Linked DNA regions of Homo sapiens. The protein of the gene in region 2 interacts with the protein of the main gene of each other region in a pairwise test. Each region holds a gene or a part of one and is shown on either strand. Other genes may lie near its edges.

Region 1 (3,818 bases), on a different chromosome or scaffold from region 2:
AAGGCCTTGCAGCCCAGCAAACTGCTGTGGCTTTGAGGGCCAAGGAGGCCAGTGGCTGAGGAGTGGCCCTGGTGCACTCAGAGCTTGCAGACAGTGCAGGAGGTGGGAGAGAGAGGCCCTGGCCATCCTGCCTTTGCTGCCACCAAGTACCTTCCCGGCACCTGCCTGGCTGCATCTGTCAGAAGCAGTGAGGACGGAGGCTCTCCCTTTCCTGATTGGGAAAGCTCTTTAAGACCTGGTGTTCCCTGTAAAAAGCAGAGAGCCTGGCAGTGCACCTGGTCGGCAACCCGTTGTGAAAAGTGGGGAAATAAGCATTTATACTGGCGCAGGCTTGTAGTATTAACAACAAAAATCTGTGGACGGATGCACAGGGAGCTAATTAAAGTGGTTGCCTGTTGGGAGAATGAGAGAAAGGAGATGGATGAGGGATGAGGCTGAGCGGCTGTGAACGTTTTCAGGATTGATGTTTTTATACTGTTTGATTTTTGAACCATATGAATGTATTAATTATTCAAAAATTAAATCAAACAATTAAAAATGAAAAAGAGGACATTTATTTCAAGTCCCATGAAGAATTTTTCCCTGAATCCCAGCTACTTACATCATCCCCTGAGGAGCAGCAATGCTGCCATTTGCTGAGTGCCTGTTCCATGCCAGGCATGCTGCCATTCAGTCCACATGCCCCCAAACGCATTGTCAGTGTCTTCCTGACTCTGTGATGGGACCTAAGGCACGGCAGGTCTAGGCCCAGACGAGGGTCACCTGTGCAGGGTAGAGCAGGGACTCCCACCTAGGTCTGTCGAACTCTATTGCCCTCTGCCCTGAATTCTAGAGAGTTTGTTCTTGCTTCTACTTTAATTTGTGTAGGATGAAAGGATGCTTCCCTACATGTTAACACTGGTGTCTATGGATTTGGAAGTAGGATTCTCTCCATCCCCCATCTAATTTTCTGCAAGTCAATACAGAGTACCTTTGTCATTAAAAAGAAAATATTTAAAAAGAAAACTAAGCAATTCCTGCTTTCAAGAATGAGTTGGTGTTTCTAGGCCAAATTTGTGGTTTGCTAGCATGCCCTTTTCCACATGCTCGGTGCATATTTTGTGGTACGTGGGCCTCTGGGGACCAAGAACTTCGTTCATCTGTGCCCATTCCACAGGACGTGGCCGGCTGCTCAGGTGTTAGAAGATTGCAGAGGTTTGTGGTCATGCTTGCTTTGCTTTTGCGATGCCTGCAGATGGTCACTGCCAGGATTTGCTGGCTGCAGGGTTCTGGGTCGATTTGGTGTTCTGAATTCAATTTTATTCTTGATAAAAAACAAGATCTGCTTCTTGATGACCCACTTTGTGCTCCAGTCCCCTGGAACCCACATGCTTTTCCTGGCTGCTCCTGACATCTACACAGAACTAGGGCAGCCCCTGGGATGGAGAAGGAGGGCCTTGCTTTGGGCTTTGAAGGGTGGGTGAGGATTTGAGACATGTCAGGAGGACAAACGGCACTCAAGGTGGGAGGTACGGCATGGGCAAAGGTGTGGAAGGGGGTTTGGAAGACAGTTTTCTGGCCCAGAGCATTGTGCAAGGTGACTGGTAGGAAGGGAAGGCACGAGCTGGATTGTGAAAGGTCTCTGCCCTAAGTGGTGGCAGAGATACTTTCTTCTGCCTCTCTGCACCCTCTCTGGTGGTGGCTGTTTCCTCTCATGCAAAAGAGGACAGAGGCTGCGGGCTGTGAGTGGGATGCCCTTCCTCCTCACCCAGAGCCTGGCTGACGCTGCAAACCACATGATGGAGGGAACTTTGGGTGGAAACCAAGACTGCCTCTGCTTCCAGCTAGAGAGCATGATGCCCTGGGCCCTGGGCTGCCCACACCAGGACTCTCCTCTGGGTTGGCTCTGGAAGGTTCCTCCCTCACAGACTCAGTCATGCTCCATCCTCCAGGCTTAGAAGGAAATCGGCTTCTTGGGAGGCCGAGGCGGGTGGATCATCTGAGGTCAGGGGTTCGAGACCAGCCTGGCCACCATGGTGAAACCCTGTCTCTACTAAAACTACAAAAAAATTAGCGGGGCATGGTGGCGCATGCCTGTAATCCCAGCTACTCAGGAGGCTGAGGCAGGAGAATCGCTTGAACCCAGGAGGTGGAGGTTGCAGTGAGCTGAGGTTTCACAATTGCACTCCAGCCTGGGCAAAAGAACGAAACTCCGTCTCAAAAAAAAAAAAAGAAGAAGAAGGAAGCGGGCTTCTTTGAAGCCTCACCCAACCCTCACCCACACTTGCTAGGTGGCCTTGGAGAATCATTTTCCCTTTCTGAACCTCAGTTTCCTCATCTGCAGGATGTCAGGGTCGTCATCACTTAAGATAAGGGCTTTGAGGTTGGGGCGGCTCAGGGCAGTGCTAAGGGACCACCTCCTGCTCACCACAGTGGAGTAGCAGACCAGGAACAGTTCCCAGGGGACCCAGATTTATAATTGGATATGCACCCATAGGGTGAGCCTTATACATAGATCTTGCTGTTTCAGAATGCCTCCTCCAATCATGTTCACCATTGCATGTTATACTCCACCATTAGAGAATCATTCCTTTGGTTTCAAGTAACAAGATGATCTATGTTATCTCACTTAATTCCAACAATAGTCCTGTGAGGTCAGTATTCTTATTCCTGTTTTACAGAGAGGAAACTGAGCCTCTTGGAAGGAATGTGGGCCTGGGGGATGCCACACAGATGGATCGGACTGGGCTGGGCCTGGATGCCACCTTCCCAGGTCTGGGTCAGAGAGCCCTTTGCAGTTAATGGGAGGGTGTGTTGGTTTGCTGAGGCCTGGCACACTGAGCAATGGGTGATGGAACAGGCAGGAGAGCGACAGCTCCTTCCACTGGTGTTGACAGGCCACCCACCATTGGGCAACAGGAAGTGCCAGCTGGAGCCCTGGAGACCAGCAGCCAGTGTGGGGATGTGGTGGCCAGATGGAACTCAGGGCTTCCCAGCTGTGGAAACAGGAACGGGAAACAGCCACACTGGGGAGGAAGTCAGGGGGTGATGGGCTGAGGCAAGAGCATGCCTGCGTGGCTAGAGAGAGTGACCAAGGTGGAGAGTAGTTGGAGATAAGGTAAGAAATAGAACAGTGGCCAGGCGTGGTGGCTCACACCTGTAATCCCAGCACTTTGGGAGGCTGAGGTGGGAAGATCACTTGAACCCAGGAGTTCAAGACCAGTCTGGGCAACATGGTGAAACCACTTCTTAAAAAAAAAAAAAAGTACAAAAATTAGCTGTACCTGGTGGTGCACACCTGTAGTCTCAGCTACTTGGGAAGCTGGAGTGGAAGGGTCACTTGAGCCCAGGAGTTGGAAACTGTAGTGACTGTATGATCGCACCACTGCACTCCAGCCTGGGCAACAGAGCAAGACTGTCTCAAAACAAACAAACAAACAAACAAAAAAAACAAAGAAAGAAAAGAGAAGCAGAGAGCCAGATCTTGTAGGACTGTCATTCTAAAAAATCCCAATGCCCAGGCCACACCCCAGGTCAATTACACCCCGATTTCTGAGGGTAGGACCTGGACATCAGTATTTTTCAAAGTTCCCCAGTGCCTCCATGTGGAACTTTAGCTTGAGAGGCATCAACATAGATAATTGTGGTAATTAATTACCATTGCTGGCCAAGCATGGTGGCTCATGCCTATAATCCCAGCAGTTTGGGAGGCCAAGGTGGGCAGATCACCTGAGGTCGGGAGTTCAAGACCAGCCTGGCCAACATGGTGAAACCCTGTCTCTACTAAAAATACAAAAAATGTAGCCAGGTATGGTGGTGCATGCCTGTAATCCCAGCTA
Region 2 (3,818 bases):
AACAAGGCAAAACAATAATTAAAGTACAACAGAAGGTAGTGCAGTTCTCGCTGTGGAAGGAAGCGGTCCGCAGGCAGCTGGCCCGGGATGCCTGCACCCAGGTCGAGGCTGAAGGACGGGGGGTCTCGGTGTTCCCGCAGCTCTAAGGCTGTGGCTGGGGGCTGGCTCAGGAAGTCATCTTCAGGGTGATGTGGGGGATGCAGGTGGAATGCGGTGAGGAGAAGAGGAGGGCGCTGGGCTCCGGGCCCCTGTCACAGAGTGGACTCCAAAGAGGAGTCCAAGATGTCATCGTGATGGCTGTTGCTGTTGGAGTCGCTGTCATAGCTCTGGGGGCTGGAGTAGTTGGCTGCCTCCTGCAGCCTCATCAGCATGTTCATCTAGGGGAAGAGTGGAGAAGCATGAGCTGCTTTCTGTCTAGTTGGCCGCCCACCCTGGACTCCTAAAAGGTCATGCCACCTCCTCCAGACTCACCTGGGATAACAGCCCACAGTGGAGGCAGTGGACAAGAACATGGACTTTGGGCCAGGCTTCTAGGGTTCAAATCCCAGCTTCACCAATTACTAGCTGCATGACTTTGAACACATTACTTAACCTCTTTATACTTGTTTCTTTACTGGTCAAATGTGAATAATAATAGTACCTGCCCTATAATGTTATGGGTGGATTGAGTTAATATACGTAGAGCACTGAAAACAAAATGATGATCTCTATACATAGCTTATTTATTTTTTATTTAGGAGGGGCACACCTTTCAGGCCTAGCCCTCGGCCTGGATGAAGGTGTGGCTGAGCATCCCTGTTCCTGGAACTTGGCATCAGCATCACTGACATCGGAAGCACATGGACCCCCTCCCACTTCAACAAGCATCAAACCCATCTCTTCTCCTTGCTCTGGCCAGGTCAGACTGGAGCCAACTGTGCTGCAGCTCCTGTGGAAGCCTTGGCAGGGAGGTGAGGGGGAGCACCAGTTACAAGCAAAGGCTCCGAGTGCAAAGAGCCTTCGCTTATGATTCAGGAATCTCTGGGCAAGTTACCTAAGGTATCTGAGCCAGCAGTTCGTCATCTGTGGAATGGGGAGAATGGCAACACTTCTCATAGGGTTGAAGTAGGGAATAAAATGATATAATGTGTATTAAACCCTTAGAAAAGGGGCTGGCCTGGCATATAGTAAGCGCTTAATAAATGTCATCTGTTGTCATCATCATCTAACTTAAAAGAGTTTAGCGACAGTGTTCTTGAATCTGCCCTTGTTTACATACTACGGGTCACTTGTTTGGGAGTGGGAGAGGGAATAAAAACTACTTTTATTTATAACTGTAAATTGTGTGTATGTATTTTATATTTCATATAGGAAGTAAGTCAGGAATATGGGGCCTCTCTGAGCTAGGGCCAAGATGTGGTGCAGCTGGGCATACAATCCAGCTGCCCCTCAGGATGCTTTGCAGAGTCTACCCAGATGCGCCAGGCTGCAGAAGCACCATCATCTGGTGTCCATCTGCACAGCCATAACTAGGGAAGAGGCAGAGCTGAAGTATAATGGACAATCCTTGGCAACTGGGATTACTTATTCACTCATTAAACACTCCCAGTGTGTCCACAGTATATGGTTCTGGAACAAAAGCAAGTAAATTCTGTTTTCATGGAAGTCTCAGTCTCATGAGTGAGAAGGATTAATACAGAAGAGAGCTATGATAATAGAGACATATGGCCCTGGGCAGAAAGAGCAGAACTGAGGAGAAATACCAAATATCTAACTCGGTAATGGAAGTGGCTGGACTGGCACAGCTCACTTCTGGGGGCCTGGGGTTGGAAGGAGAAATCTGTTTCTGCATTTCCAAGAATCCTGGGTCTTACCTACACACCTTCTGTGTCCAACCAGTGATACAAATGTTACTGGCTCAGAAAAGATTGTTTAGGGATGGGCTGGCCATTCTTTCCTCTAAATATACTAAATTCTATTTTCTATGTAAGTTAAGACCTCATGAGTTTGCCCCTGCAAAAAATACCTCCGTGACTTTGGCTTTCAGCAATGGTTAACGTTGCAAACGGCTGTTTAAAGTATGCTTCTTTCCTTTGTAAGACTACTGTTATAAATATTGCAAACTAGGTTGTACATGGCAACACAAATAATAAATCCTTAAAAAATACAGTTCCCACTGCAATCTTCAACAGAACCACAGCTACATCCCACCAAACAGTAGGATGGCAGACAACCTGAATCGCCTATTAATATTATTATTATTTTTTTAATCTAGGGACTTAATTAGCTGCTAGGAATAGAACAGTAAATCAGTTGTCTTTTAATCCTGCTACATCTCTTATAATATTTTCTTTCATTAGGTAATGTAAATAATATTCTCTGTTATGTTTTCTTTTTGCTATGCCTGCCAAGAAAGCTTGGGGCTAAATTTAAGGCATGATAATAGTCCTTTAACCATGGGAGGTTTTGGTATATTTGCTTCCTTTTTATTTTACTGGGCTTTTGATTTGTTAGGTCTAATTTAGCAGTGTGACTCTGTGTGGGTCTTATATTGGTAGAGTACTACAATCGATTAGAAATACTACTGTTATTGGCCCGGGTGTTTCTTTTGTTTGTTTGAGACAAGGTTTGGTTCTATCAACCAGGCTGGAGTGCAGTGGCACAATCTTGGCTCACTGCAAACTCTGCCTCCCAGGCTCAAGCCCTCCTCCCACCTCAGCCTCCTGAGTAGCTGGGACTATAGGCATGTGCCACCATGCCCAGTTAATTTTTGTATTTTTTGTAGAGAAGAGGTTTTGTTACGTTGCCCAGGCTGTAACTGCCCACCAAAAGTGCTGGGACTACAGGCATGAGCCACCACACCCAGCCCGGGTGCTTTTTTTTTTTTTTTTTTTTTTTTGAGACGGAGTCTTGCTCTGTTGCCCAGGCTGGAGTGCAGTGGCGCGATCTCGTCTCACTGCAAGCTCCACCTCCCGGGTTCACGCCATTCTCCTGCCTCAGCCTCCCGAGTAGCTGGGACTACAGGTGCCTGCCACCACGCCCAGCTAAATTTTTATATTTTTAGTAGAGACGGTGTTTCACCATGTTAGCCAGGATGGTCTCGATCTCCTGACCTCGATCCACCCGCCTTGGCCTCTCAAAGTGCTGGGATTACAGGTGTGAGCCACCCCAGCCTGGGTGCTTCTTAAAGGGCCTTTATTGTTTTAGCAACAGCCGAATAAATAAGAAGCTTAAACAGTGTGAAAGACTTAGCTCATCTCAATGGCCATGGGACTCATATTCAGGCCTCCTCCCCTCTGTGAGTCCCTCCTGCCCTCAGACCTCTCCCTGTTTACCCTATCATTTGCCTTGGGCTTCTGGTCCTTAGCAATCTCTTCCTCTGCTCTGCTATCGGTAGGAGAGATCAAAGTAATAGGATAGTAGGTAATAGAGGTGGCATCCCAAATCAGAGGGCAAAGTGTTGTATAGAGACAGTAGGTATAAGAACATTTAAGGGGAAAAATCAATTCTTAATCTGTTATCTAATACCAGAAAAAAATTTCAGAGGAGAAGTTTTTAGTGAAAAACTAAAACCATGGAAGAAAATATTGGCAAAAATGGCCCAGTCATTTGGGTCCAGCCTTCCAAAGCAAGGCTGGATTTAGTCACCTTTGTATTTCCAGAGGCTCTGCATCATACCCAACACACAGTAAGTGCTAAAGGAATGCTGAGCTGCTCTGGTGGCTGAGGACTCACCAGCGGGTCACCTTCAGCATCACTGGGGGGCATCTGCTTGCTTGTCGATCCCTCCCGAGGCATGGAGTAGCCGTCGAAGCCGACATCCTCAGGCCGTAACTGCA

Evidence for each region.
Region 1: the proteins of NAV2 (region 2) and PSTPIP1 interact in a two-hybrid assay, tested with the Homo sapiens proteins (one large-scale study listed by BioGRID).

What each region holds. Positions count from the first base shown.
Region 1 is NC_000015.10:77,001,458-77,005,275, forward strand, and holds part of PSTPIP1 (proline-serine-threonine phosphatase-interacting protein 1), read left to right. Parts: intron 1-3,818. UniProt on the Homo sapiens protein: Involved in regulation of the actin cytoskeleton. May regulate WAS actin-bundling activity. Bridges the interaction between ABL1 and PTPN18 leading to ABL1 dephosphorylation.
Region 2 is NC_000011.10:20,114,692-20,118,509, reverse strand, and holds part of NAV2 (neuron navigator 2), read right to left. Parts: coding exon 3,715-3,818; intron 1,321-3,714; exon of another isoform or gene 738-1,320; intron 378-737; coding exon 252-377; 3' UTR 1-251. UniProt on the Homo sapiens protein: Possesses 3' to 5' helicase activity and exonuclease activity. Involved in neuronal development, specifically in the development of different sensory organs.